4 linked regions of the Homo sapiens genome follow. The protein of the gene in region 1 purifies or fractionates together with the protein of each later gene. This does not show direct contact. Each region holds a gene or a part of one and is shown in the gene's direction. Other genes may lie near its edges.

Region 1 (3,500 bases):
AGGGTCAGTATATATGGGTATAGAAATGGCTAGTAGGTTACCTTTGTCCAGTCTTGGCATTCAGGGAAGACTTCTTATAAGAAGTGACTTCTGTGCAGAAGCTTCATGGTTAAGTACATGTATAAGAGAGAAGGGAAGATATTTCAGTTCAGACTGAGAAAAATTTGGGCAGAGGCAGAGCCATTTGCTAGATGCTGGTAGTACATGGTCCAGGCCTCAGAGAATTCAGTCTAGTGGGGAAACAGACTTATTGAAAGAAAAATTGTGAGATGTGTTCAGTTCTGTTCTATGGAGCAGAAGTTGGTAAGCCTGCCATGTAAGTACATTCATTCCTATGGAAGTAAGAGTGTCGATGTGAACATTACCGAGCCCTGGGCCATATGTTGAGAGCACATTTCTCATTCAGTGTTCTGTTCTGTGCAAGACTGTAGCAGTGTGACAGGCATACTTTAGGCAAACTCATTTATGTAAAGGCAAACTTGGTGACCTGAAGGAAACGGTGCAGCCAGGTTCTCAATGGCCACTTCCTATGCTCTCTGTGGATGTGATGGGATCCCTTCCTGGTCTGTAATCACTCACATGGAAGCATTGGAAGAGCTTCACAGGCAGGTTAGGGAGAAAGAAAGGTGTGTCCCCATTTGCTTTTAAAACCCAGCCCTGTCCAAGGGGCAGCTCCGAGAATGCCCTTCCCTCTTCTGGAGAGACATTCTGGATAGTGCAAAGAACTTGGGCTTGGAGTTGGATAGAAGTGACATCTCAGATGTGGCACTGATTGATGGGTAGCGTAGGGAGATAAACTAAACTGCTATTTCCTCATCTGTTAAGTGGAACTAATAACATCTGCCTTGTTTTAAAGAGTAAATAGGATTTAAATATCTCTTCATATGTAAATTAAAGTACAGTGGCTGGCATGGTAGGTGCCTAGTAAATGTTAGTTTTCTTTTTACGTTACTTTTCCCCCCATTTGCAGAAGAATAAATGTTCCCTGAGCTGCCCGGATTCTTGTTCCGCACAGTGCCCTGGAGTCCTGGTAACTGAGTTGCTGGTTGTGCTGCCATCTGCTCTTTGTGCGTCCTGGTTGCTGGCTGGCCAGCTAGGTGGGCCTGCCTCCTTTCCCTCCCTTGTGCTTTTCCTGTCAGCTGTGGTCATGGTTGCCATTAGATGTTCTTTTCCACTAAATCTCAGTGGCTAACTGCCACCAGAGACTTTACTCCTGACCTCTGCACCGTGATGGCCGCCTTGTCCCCTTTGTGTTCTGTTTTTTTCACTTTTGTGGTGTTTCACTCTGTTGCCAAACCTTTTAGCTTTTTTCTCTGACTGCTCTATTCTCTTACCAAAGCGAGGGTTTTCCCTCCTGTTTCTGAGTGGGGAGCTGCCGAGAATTGTCATCCTCAGGAGGGAATGTCGTTGCTGGGGCTGCAGAGTTGCTGGGTACAGGCAGGAGGGTGGTGTGCTCCTTCACTTCACTTTGTCTTGGGACTTAGGCATATCTCGGGTTGGAATTGGGGTAGTTATGCAGGTGAGAACTACCAGTTCACTAGCTGGATGTTTGTCATTTAGCTAGGCATTAGGATTCAGTAGAAATAAAGTTTTATTTCGTTTTGCAACAATGTTGTTTTCTGTTTGGGTTGTTTACATTTTAAATATACAGTACTCTAGGTATTTTGAGTAATATGTAGACAGATGTTAGTGGACCAGCCTAGGAGAATAATGATGTTAGTGGTAAGTGCCTGGCACTGTACCAAGGAATTATTTTATTTAATTCATATCCTATGAGGTAGGTTTTATTACTATCTCCATTTTTACAGATGAAGAATCTAGGTTAAGTAACTTGCCCAAGGTCATGCTGCTTTTAGAGTCCTGATGCATCACACAGAGCCCTCACCACTGTGTTTTACTGCCTGTATGTTATTTAGACATATTGAAATAATCATTTCAATGGGAACATAAATTCTGAGTTCCAAATAAATAATCTACAAATAAAGCTTTAGAGCACCATCTATTTTAGTTTGGCAGACAAATATTAATTAAAGGTGCCCAAAAGGAGTGTTTATAGATAGGTACTTTGCATATTTAAAGCAAGAGTTGCTAAGCTTTTTCCGTAAAGGGCCAAATAGTCTATATTTTAGGGTTTGTGGATGGCATGTACTGTCTCTCACATAGTCTTTGTGTGTTTTTTTGTTTTTTTGTTTTTTAACAATCTTTAAAAATGTAAAAGCCATTCTTAGTTCACAGGCTGAACAAAAGCAGGTCATCAGCCAGAGGCAAGAATGAAAGTAAGGAAAGCAGAAGGCTGTCAGGAAGTCCGGGCCAAAGATGACTGGGGTAAGGGCAGATAAGACAGAGGGTATGGGATGGGGAGGAGAGACTGTCAAAAAATGAAGAAAACAAGAATCCTTGGCCTGAGGGCCAAAATTTGCTGACCCTTAAAGTAATGTAGTACAGGTTGAGTATCCCTTAATGCAAATGCTTGGGACCAGAAGTATTTCAGAGTCTGGATTTTTTTGGATTTTGAAATGTTTGCATTTTTCTTACCAGATGAGCATCCCAAATCTGAAAATCTGAAAGTCCGAAATGCTCCAATGAGCAGTTTCTCTGAGCATTACGTCCCCACTCAGAAAGTTCTGGATTTTATTCAAGTTTGGTTTTCAAATTTTTGAATTTGGGATGCTTAACCTGTATGTATTCTGTTAATCATTTTGACACTGGCTTAAATTATTGTAATACTAAACAATACATAACCAAGAAGTCAGAATCTGATGTGTTATAGCACATTATTCAGTAAATATCTTTGTCTCATGTGTCTGTCTGAAGAGACCACCAAACAGTCTTTGTGTGAGCAACATGGCTGTTTATTTCACCTGGGTGCAGGCAGGCTGAGTCCGAAAAGAGAGTCAGCAAAGGGTTGTGGATTATCATTAGTTCTTACAGGTTTTGGGATAGGTGGTGGAGTTAAGAGCAATGTTTTGAGGGAAGGGGTTGGATCTTACAAAGTACATTCTCAAGGGTGGGGAGAACTACAAAGAACCTTCTTAAGCATGGGGGAGATTATAAAGAACCTTCTTAAGGGTGGGGGAGATTACAAAGTACATTGATCAGTTAGGGTAGGGCAGAAACAAATCACAATGGTGGAATGTCATCAGTTAAGGCTATTTTCACTTCTTTTGTGGATCTTCAATTGCTTCAGGCCATCTGGATGTACACGTGCAGGACACTGGGGATATGATGGCTTAGCTTGGGCTCAGAGGCCTGACAATCTTGTGTTTTGAATTGGCTACAAATGCTGCCAGGTGGGGAATCCAGTTAGCTTTCTTTAAATCCACATTGCAGCCACAGCCGTCCTCGCTGTCTCAGCTCAGTGTCCACCTCTGCTCTCCTCACTGGCCTTCACACATAGGAACACTACAATGGGTCCTTGGAGGCTGACATTTTAGTAGCTGCCACTCCTGGTTTTACTTAGCGCTTGCAAACCAGCCACATATGTAGTTTGTTTAATCAGA
Region 2 (3,500 bases), on another chromosome or scaffold:
CACGACTGTTAATTGTATTCATATGCACTATAACTTTACAAAGCATCTTCCCAAACCAAATATTTACTGATTTAGTATAATTTGTATGACTTTATTATAGAACTGACTTTCCAAGTGTTCATGAGAATTGTTTAGTATTTGCTACATTGTATCATCTCAGCTGTGTCCACATGAGCTATCTGTCACCTTGTCTTAATGAATAATTGTTCACTAGGAATATTGGTTTTGGCATTGAAATGATCTATATCTAAATGCAGATAGGACCCGGGACCACTTTTGAACATTAATGTCCAAGCATCTTAAAATTACACATAAGGCTTTCATAATCTGACTTCTGCCCCACTCTCCATCTTTAGCCCTTTTCCCTGTGTGCACTGTCTCTGGCATTACTGAGCTGCTGGCAATGCCCTACTCACTCATCCTTCTATTGTAGGCAAATACTTTCACTCTTTCAGGCCTCGCTCCCGCTCTTGCTGCTGCATGGTATGCCGTCACCCTTTCCTGCCCTCTACCCCTTTTAATCTGGCTAGTCTCAATATTTAAGTCTCTGCTTGGGCATGTGTTCTAGAAAAGCCATCTCTGACAGGCTTTATTTTAATTCTTTTTAAACCCTAATGCCTAGCATGTATTTAGCAGGACTCAATAAAATATTTCTGAGTAAAACAAAGACTGTTTTTACAAAGATGATGTGCAAGACTCTCCCCTGCAGTCTTGGAGCAGAGGGGACAGACATGTGGAGGAATAATGTACAGTTTAGGTGGTCAAGATGCAGTAGAAAAATCAGTAAAGTACTAAGGCAGCCTCAAGGAAGGAGGTACCTGTTTATTTGGGGAAAGACATGCAAAATCAAGGAAGACTTCACATAGCATTGTTTCAAAAGATGAAAATAAGGCCAGGTGTGGTGGCTCACACCTGTAATCCCAGCACTTTCAGAGGGGATCACGAGGTCAGGAGATCGAGACCATCCTGTCCAATGGTGAAACCCCATCTCTACTAAAAATACAAAAATCAGCTGGGTGTGGTGGTGCTTGCCTGTAATCACAGTTACTCAGGAGACTGAAGCAGGAGAATCACTTGAACCAGGGAGGCGGAGGTTGCAGTGAGCTGATCATGCCACTGCATTCCAGCCTGGTGACAGAGGAAGACCCTGGTTCATAAAAAAAAAAAAAGAAAAAAGAAAAAAAGAAAATAAATTTGTCAGAATAGTGGAGGGAAACATTTTAGATATTAGGAAGACGTTGTACACTAATAAAGGTGTCAGCAGTGATTTTGGAAATCATTTATAAGGTACTATTAGGAAGTGGAGAACAGTACACTGTGTCACCTTATATGTTTCTACTGTATTTTAAAGCTGTGTTTCTGGTGGTTTTGTTCATGGATGTTGGGTGGATGAATTTGTGAGGGAATTTTTGACATGTTTGTTTGTCTTCAATCTGGTGACATCTGGTATCTCCCCAAGTGGGTTTTTGAAGTTTTTGAGAATTATTTCTTAAATGACAATTTCACAAAAGATGAAACACTCAATTTATGAAATAAAATGAAATGTCTCAAATCCGTTTTTAAAAGGCAATAGTTTTTAACTGTTCTAAGTGGTTGATTTTAACTGAATATATGGATTTTTCAACAGAACAAGACTTAAAGCTGACATCAGAGGAAGAGTCACAAAGGCTTAAAGGCAGTGAAAATGGCCAGCCAGAGGCATGGAAACTTTTAAATTTAAACTTTTGTTTAATGTTGTGTGTTTTTTGCCTTAATAATAGTAGATAGTCCAAATGAAATTACCTTTCAGACTAGGCTTTGAGAATCAGTAGATTGTTTTTTTAAGAATCTTTTGGCCAGGCAAGGTGGCTCACGCCTGTAATCCCAGCACTTTGAGAGGCTGAGGCAGGTGGATCACGAGGTCTGGAGATCGAGACCATCCTGGCTAACATGGTGAAACCCCGTCTCTAGTAAAAATACAAAAACTTAGCTGGGCGTGGTGGCGGGTGCCTGTAGTCCCAGCTACTCGGGAGGCTGAGGCAGGAGAATGGCATGAACCCAGGAGAGGGAGCTTGCAGTGAGCCGACATCCACCACTACACTCCAGCCTGGGTGACAGAGCAAGACTCCATCTGAAAAAAATATATATATATATTTTAATAGGTTCTTAAAATTTATTGTAATAAAATCAGCAACCTTCTTAACAGAAGAATCAATAGATTCTAATTTAATATTTGATATTTAACTTCAACATAACCCACTATAAAATTTAAAATACTCTTATTTTAAAATATTCTTATCTGCCTTCTTGATTAGCTTATAGCTAATCTCTCCTTTTGGAATAGAGGCAAAAACAAATTTCAGAACTTTGTTTGTTCTTTTATTTTTACAACACCCTAACATGATAAAGAAAGTAACATCAATGATTGAATCATATTATTAAGCAATAGGAATTATGAACAATGTAACACTGATTCCCTGAGCTGGATTCATGGTTAAAGAGTAATCATGGCCTGTGATTGAAAATCCACAGTTTTATATTGTCAGTCACTGATACCAAGGTTAAGGACATATCCTGCCTTGTGGTCTCTCGTTGACCTCAGTGTTTCTGTTCAGGGAGGGAACCAGGTCATAAAAGCAACCCAACTGCCTATTACAAGAACCATATCTTGCAGAATGGGACCTTTGGTGTTAGTGCACAAACACAATAACATTCTAATTTATTTCAGTTGCAGAAAATCAGTACAGATTAAAAAATTCTATCTGCTGTCATTAGTACACATTAGAATATATTAGAACTGGACTTACGCAGATAATCTGGATACATAACACTATCATATGACAGTATATAATTTCAATTAAAATGTGAGAATTTGCATTTCTTTCTGTTTGGTGTTGATTTCGGCTCCTAATAGTTTAAAGGGTGCCTACAATCCAGTTAGGAATCTTTTAAAAAAGCACTTCAGTGCACTGTAGGGGCTCACTAGTTAGGGTTTCATGAGGTAAACTCTTTTCAAGTGAGGAAGATTTTGGAACACTACAAATCATCTGCTGATTCATTTTTGGTAGATTTAACACATAACAAATTAAGTTTAGTCCAAACAAATAGTGAGAAAGTTAAGTTTGCTGGTTCATGTTTTTCTTCTCCCTTTGTCTAAGGTGAATTATTTTTCACATGTTAGAAGCCAGTGATGTGGCAGTAGCTAAACATAGATTAAAAAGTTAATTCTTAATTTTAATTATTATTTATTTAAACAGTTTAATTTTAATTACTTTCTAATTTTTATTGTCCATACTTGATTACTTCAGAATAAAATTATTTTAAAAACATGCACTCCAAAAGAGGAAATGTCACAGAAATACAACAAGCAAATTAACCTTCTGTTTTTACATCTGCAGAAAAGATCTCAAGAACCAGAAATAAATAAGGATGGTGATAGAGAGGTATACCTTTATATTCAAATGTTTGTGTTGAATTAGATTTTTACATTATGTTGTTTAACAAAGTGTAGTAAATGTAGG
Region 3 (3,500 bases), on another chromosome or scaffold:
TAGTGCACTAAGTTTGAAAAGCTGAATGAAGCTTACTATAGTAAAATACCAGTTATTAAAATTGGCTTGCAGAAATTCGTCCAATATAAGTAAACAACCAATAGCAACCAGGTGTAAATAGTTTTATAGGCTAATTCTACCAAACCTTTAAGGAACATATAATTTCTGTGTTCTAGAACTTGGGAAAAGATGGAGAGTTCAAAACTCACACCGTATGCCTAGTATAACCTCAATGCCAAACCAGACGTGGCACGCACAGAAAAATAAAATCAGACCAAAGTCATTTGGAAAAAAAATTCCTATATTTATGATTCAAAACTCAGTTATTTTATAAAATAATAATATTAAGTGGATAAAGAAACGCCAGTTGTACTATCAGCTAAACATTAGAAACCTTCTCATCAGGCCAGGTGAGGTGGCTCATGCCTGTAATCCCAGCACTTTGGGAGGCCAAGGCGGGCGGATCACCTGAGGTTGGGAGTTCAAGACCAGCCTGGCCAACATGGAGAAACCCTGTCTCTACTAAAAATACAAAATTAGCCAGGCATGGTGGCACATGTCTGTAAACCCAGCTACTCAGGAGGCTCAGGCAGGAGAATTGCTTGAACCCGGAAGGCGGAGGTTGCGGTGAGCCGAGATCACGCCATTGCACTGGGCAACAAGAGCGAAACTCCGTCTCAAAAAAAAAAAAAAAAAAAATCAAAATCAGAAAGAAAATGCTTGTTAAAACTTACGTTATTCTCTCTGATTCAGAATACCTAGAGCATGGACTTGAAACTAGGTAGTTTACAAAAAACAAAACAGAAAACATTTGTATTATTCCATTTTATTTTAGAAGTCCTGGCCAATGCACTAAGCAATAAAAAGAATTAAAACGTATAAACATTGAGAAGAAAAAACAAAAATAGTTTTGCAAATGACTTGATTATGTACTTAGAAAATATGAAGGAACTGAAAATTTATTGTAGCCAGTAACAGGAATCAGAGTGTTTGCTGTAAGAGAAACAAAAAATTGTATATATCAGCAATAACCAACAGAAGCTGTAATGACAGCTGGGTACAGTGGCATGCACCTGTAATCCTAGCTTCCCAGGAGGCTGAGGCAGGAGGATTGCTTGGGCCCAGGAGTTCATGGCTGCATTGCGCAGTGATCAAGGCTGTGAATAGCTACTGCTCTCCATCCTCAGCAGCACAGCAAGACTCCATCTCTACAGAAAGAAAAGAAAGGAGGGAAGTGGGGAGGGAGAAAAAAAAGAAAGAAAGAAATTTAATGGTAGGTACCAAGGATGGGGATACCATTGACCAGAGAAAAGGAAGGGAGGGAGGGAGGGGAAAAAAAAAAAAAGAAATTTAATGGTGGGTCCCCAAGGATGGGGATACCATTGACCAGAGAAGGGGTAAAGAAGAAAAAATGATGGACAAAATATGTTTAAATGTTGGCACTATTTGGACTGACACTTTTAACCATTATTTACTCTTTGTTAACTGTTTGGAGTTAGTAAAACAAATACATTCTCTTTTGTTAATTCATACATAGATATTCTGCCTCCATGGTGGCCTCTCTCCATCCATAGACACACTGGATCATATAAGAGCCCTGGATCGTTTACAGGAAGTTCCACATGAGGTAAACTTAATTTAAAAAAGAAGAAGAAAGGAAAAGAAAATATAACCACATTTTGAGGATGATAAAGTATGACTGATAATAATTTGTAACATGTACTTATTTTTCTTGGCCAGGGCCCAATGTGTGATCTGTTATGGTCAGATCCAGATGATCGTGGTGGATGGGGTATTTCACCACGTGGTGCTGGCTACACATTTGGACAAGACATTTCTGAAACCTTTAACCATGCCAATGGTCTCACACTGGTTTCTCGTGCCCACCAGCTTGTAATGGAGGTATGTACTTTCCTGACAGAATGATCTTTATTTCAGATTAGTATATACTTCTGTAATAAGGCATTATGACTTAACTAAGAAACATTCCTCACCATTTATTACCTAGGTGAAAAGAGGAAAAACTTGCTGGTTTTAGCAAGTAGGGAAAGCACTAGTAGACCAGAGCAGAATTATAACTCATTTTTGAAATTGAGACTTAGAAAAAAGTTACAAAAATAGTACCCCATAATTCCCTGTATGCTTCATTCAGATTCCTGACTGTAAATATTTTACTATATTTGCTTTATCATTTTGTGTCTCTCTTCCTCTTCACCCCTCACACTTTCTTCTGAACCATTTGAATATCTGTTGCAGACAGATACTCCTTTACTACCAACTTTCTATGTGTATTTTGTAAAATTAAGGACACACTGTCACATAACCACCGTATAGTTATCACAGTTGGGAAATTTGTGTTCATATAGTACTGTTATTTAATATGAACACTTTATTCAAATTTTGCTAATTGTCTCACTAATGTCTTTAATAGCAAAATTTAATTTTTTGTGCATACTGTATGTGCATAGTCGAATCCAAAGATTAGGTTGTATTCATTCTACTTTGATGTGGAAATCCTCCGATTTTCATTGTTTTCCACATTCTTGACATTTTGGAAGAGTAGGAGCATTTTATCTTACAGAAATATCCCTCAGTTGGGGTTTGCCTGATGTTTTCCTTGCAGTTAGGGATTCAATGTATGCATTTTTGGCAGTCATGACATAGAAAGATGGTGTGTCCTCCTCCGTGCATTGTATCAAGTGGTCCTAAAATCTGCTTGTCTCAATGCTGGTGGTGGCAACTTTAATTGCTTAGTTAAGATGATGTCTGCCAGATTTCTCCACTATAATATTAACTGTTATACAACTACTAAGGGAACATAAACAACATAATCCCTGCAGACCAGTAGGGAGTGGCTTCAAGATGTTTAGAGAAAACTTCGCCAGCCCAGTAGAAACAAGGGAGCATGATAAAAAAAACACAAATTTACATAGTAAAAATAAATTTAATTATATCAGTGATTATAAGAAAGAGACTAAAATTTTAGCCTGAAAGAGACTCTTAGATTGGATAAATAATCAAAATTTAGCTGTTATTTGGGATGTACCTAAAACATAAATGATTGGCTGGACAAAGTGGCTCATGCCTATAATCCCAGCACTTTGGGAGGCCGAGGTGGGAGGATCTCTTGAGTCTTGGAGTTTCAGACCAGCCTGGGCAACATAGTGAGACCTCATCTCTATATAAAAAAAAAAAAAAAGTCAAAAAGTTAGCTGGGCATGGTGGCATATGTCTATTGTCCCAGCTACTCAGGAGGCTGAGGTGAGAGGGTCACTTGAGGCCAGGAGGTTGAGGCTGCAGTGAGCTATGATCGTACCGCTGCACTCCAGCCTGGGCAAAAGGGTGAGACCTTGTCTCAAAAAAACGAGGAAAAAGAAAAAGACACCACAAACTAGAGGTAAGAGTTGGAAAATGGTATATTGGTATATCAAGTAATTAATCAAAATATCAAAAATATAGCTAATGAGCTGGCGTGGTGGCTCGTGCCTCTATTCCCAGCA
Region 4 (3,500 bases), on another chromosome or scaffold:
TTTCAAATTTTAAAATTATTGTTGGCTGGAAAAATTATAAGGATGATTGTAATCATGGTTATTTGTTTATTCTGTATATGTTCTACATGCCTATTATGTGCCTTATATAGTACTAAGGACTGAGCATATGGTTGTGAACAAAATAAGAAGTTAACTGCTGGATGGAGCTTATAGTCTTGGGAAATATACAGAAAGATTACTAGTAACTGAGGTGGAGGGTGGGTGGGGATTTGAGGAATAGTGACGAAAGGGTGTTATAGAAGTAATTTTTGACAAAGCTGAAGGCTAAAATATGAATGTATTGTTGAAGAACAAAATACATTGAGATTCCTGAGAAGGTAGGAATGTGATACAAATGGATCAGCCTTTGAAAGGAGGAATACCCTTTTCCTTTGTGTTAGGAGAGGAGGATGAGTGGATGAGCGTGGGAAGAGTGGATGTGTATAGAGGCTTTTATGTTTGTAGGCATAATGCTTGGAAGTTGAGGGGTTGGTGATGACATCTTCTGTTAAAAAGAGTGGGAAATGGTGTGGTCACATTTTAAGGAAATTAGGTAAAATTTGAAATATATTGGAGACAGGACTGGAGAGTTGGGGATCTGGAGTCAGACAGATTTGAGTTCTAGTCCTGATTCTTCTACTCGTTAACTCTCTGAACTTGGATGACCTATTGTTTTTGATTGTATATCCAGCTCCTGGGAAAATGCCAAGCACTTTCAATAAATACTAAATGAATTATGGAGTTGGATCAGTTCTGTGTTAGTGTTTAGCTAGGTAGCTGCTGTAGAATAGAAGGGTAGCACAGTTGAAGATATTGGTAGGAAAGTGGTTGAAGTGATGATTATGAAGTCTTAACTGAATAGATAAAATCAAGATTGGGGTTGGGTGGGCAGAAGGGTAGGGATATGGAGGGAGAAGATGAGGGGTTAGAGTGTCCTGTGAGGTCGAAGGACAGGCATAGTGGGAATAATTGAAAGAATGTTCTGGTTGGACAAGGATCTGATGTGGGTGTGGGAGTGAGAGACTATAGTGAATTCAAGAAAAAAATAGACTAGAACAAAAGTTATGTGGAGATTGCTTAGTGGGCATTTGATAGACATCTGTGGGCCACATGCTTAAATTCCCAGTGCATTTTGCGGAGTTACTGGAAGGTTGGTGGCTTGTTTCTACCATGAGTAGGTAAAGATGGAGAGCAGGATATTTTGTGAGAAAGCAGCTGAAGTTTCTATAGGATGATGGAGGAATGATAGGAATGATCACCTGAAGTTGCAGGGTGGGGTAAACCTAGAAGCACCAACACCTTCTTCTGACCCTCATGTATTTGGAATCTGAAAGAATGAGCACCTTCCAATTGAAAGAGTTCCAAGGGCATTAGTATACTAAAGGATCCAAATTGCAGCTAAGCCAAGGAGATGGAAAGGAGGATTCAGTAAAGAATCTGAGGATGTGAAATATTAATTTATCTTGGAAGAGAATTTTAGAGAGCACAATGGAATGCTTTTTGGAGGAGAGAAAGAGTAAGAACAATTTGGTTAAGGTAGAGGAATAACAGAACTATAAGGTGAAGAAATGAATGTGAGACACATTAGATGACCAAATGATTTGATGTTCTTGGCCATGACCTGAATTAACAAGACTGTGAGGTAAAATGGATTTAATCGGCTACAAATCTTAAGATAACCAAAACCTGAGCTGTTTAATATGGTAGCACTAGCACTAACCACTTGTAGCTATTTATATTTACATTGGTTAAAATTAAAATGAAAAATTTAGTTCTTCAGTTGCACTAGCCACACTTCAAATGCCCGAACATAGCTACATGTAGCGAGTGGCTATTGAACTGGACAGCACTGACAGCATGTCCATTATGCTAGAAAGTCCTATGGGACAGCACTGGTCTAAACAGTGCATGGTATGAGAGAAAGGGCAGGTTAAGGCACTCAGCTTCACTGACTGGGGTGGAGATTCTGATGGTTTGTACTCAGGTTCCAGATCCCTGAGGCTCAGGAACCTTTGCAGTTTAGTCTGGTTACCTGTGGCCCAGTGGTTACAACAGAATGATTAACAGTCAATTCTTTGCATCTCTGGGTGGCTCAGGAAAAATTTAAGGAGTTATTAGCTGTGAACTAACCTTAAGTAAGTTAAATTAAAAAAAAAAAAGTTCTTAAGCTAATATGATTTTAAATATCTGCACTGAAGTATAATGCAAATTTAAATTCAGCATAATTATTTGCTTGTTGTTGACTCATTTGAACCTCAAAATATAATGGGATTAATTTATACTTTGGGTTTATTACTTTAAGATGGCTCAGCAGTCTGCAGGTGGACGAGATACTCGGTTTTTACGTAATGAAATTTGCCAACTTGAAAAACAATTAGAACAAAAAGATAGAGAATTGGAGGACATGGAAAAGGAGTTGGAGAAAGAGAAGAAAGTTAATGAGCAAGTAAAGCACTTTTTTTTTCCATGAATCTTCACTGTTCAAGTTACCTGGCTTTTTATTATTATTGGTAACAATATCAATTTTTATATTGTATGTTATATTTGAAAAATGATGTACACTTATCTCTAAGGTTTTATATCACTGTTCATTTTGTCATCACCAATTTTAAAATATAATGGTACTTCTAGTGAATATGACTTGAAGATTAATTCTTTATATTTGGAAGTACATTTTTCTCAGGACATCAAACTTGTTACCTAAAATTAATGCTTTTGTCTGGAAGATTGGTATCAAGTAACTAATAGATTTTCATAAAGAAGTGATCTTTCTAGTGCCATAGTTTATTTTGGGTAAAAGTTATATTTGTTCATTTCAATGTATTTATATGATTAGTAGATTCGCAAATGAATCTTTCGATATATTCAATAATGGTTAATTAAATATCTTGTTTTTGGTTGTACCTTATTTTATGTGAGATATATATATATATGTATAGTTTTTGAAAAGTTGTGTTCATGTCAGCAGTTTATAAATCACATATTTAAAATAACATTTTTAATGCATAGTTTTTATTACCTCGTTATTCCTTGTTATAAACTAATAATTCTTGCAGTGTTCACTTGAATTTAGTTTTAGGAAAAAAGTTTTTTGCAGATCAACTTGTATTTCCTGGAAGAAAATTTCCTATTTTACCTCAGCTTCCTATTTAATGTATTATTTATTTATTTACTTAACATTTATTTGTTTTTTATTTCACCTGAACTGTTAGTAAACTTAGTAAAATTTGGTGCCTACATGTGGTAACTGTCCTGTCCCTTATACTCAGAAACGTTTTCCACCTTTGTGTCCTTTAGGTCATTGTTGTGTTATATTCCATTTATTTTATTTTGTCCATTGTTCTCTCAGAAATTGAGGGTCATACATTTTAAGAAAACAATGATATGCTATTTAAGAGAATGTATCATAAATTGATTTGTAAGGAAAAGTATCCCCATTCTTCATGTATGTATTTTACTCTAAAATGTTGAAGAATCATATAGAAGTTAGCTATGAAAAC

What was found.
Region 2: the proteins of CEP43 (region 1) and POTEI purify together in Homo sapiens (affinity purification with mass spectrometry; 3 studies listed by BioGRID and IntAct, with this or other methods). This does not show direct contact.
Region 3: the proteins of CEP43 (region 1) and PPP2CB purify together in Homo sapiens (affinity purification with mass spectrometry; 6 studies listed by BioGRID and IntAct, with this or other methods). This does not show direct contact.
Region 4: the proteins of CEP43 (region 1) and CEP290 purify together in Homo sapiens (co-immunoprecipitation; 2 studies listed by BioGRID and IntAct, with this or other methods). This does not show direct contact.

Annotation. Positions count from the first base shown.
Region 1 is NC_000006.12:167,026,897-167,030,396, forward strand, and holds part of CEP43 (centrosomal protein 43), read left to right. Parts: intron 1-3,500. UniProt on the Homo sapiens protein: Required for anchoring microtubules to the centrosomes. Required for ciliation.
Region 2 is NC_000002.12:130,474,829-130,478,328, reverse strand, and holds part of POTEI (POTE ankyrin domain family member I), read left to right. Parts: intron 1-1,627; coding exon 1,628-1,698; intron 1,699-3,377; coding exon 3,378-3,422; intron 3,423-3,500.
Region 3 is NC_000008.11:30,792,319-30,795,818, reverse strand, and holds part of PPP2CB (serine/threonine-protein phosphatase 2A catalytic subunit beta isoform), read left to right. Parts: intron 1-1,537; coding exon 1,538-1,627; intron 1,628-1,740; coding exon 1,741-1,902; intron 1,903-3,500.
Region 4 is NC_000012.12:88,135,589-88,139,088, reverse strand, and holds part of CEP290 (centrosomal protein of 290 kDa), read left to right. Parts: intron 1-2,302; coding exon 2,303-2,446; intron 2,447-3,500. UniProt on the Homo sapiens protein: Involved in early and late steps in cilia formation. Its association with CCP110 is required for inhibition of primary cilia formation by CCP110.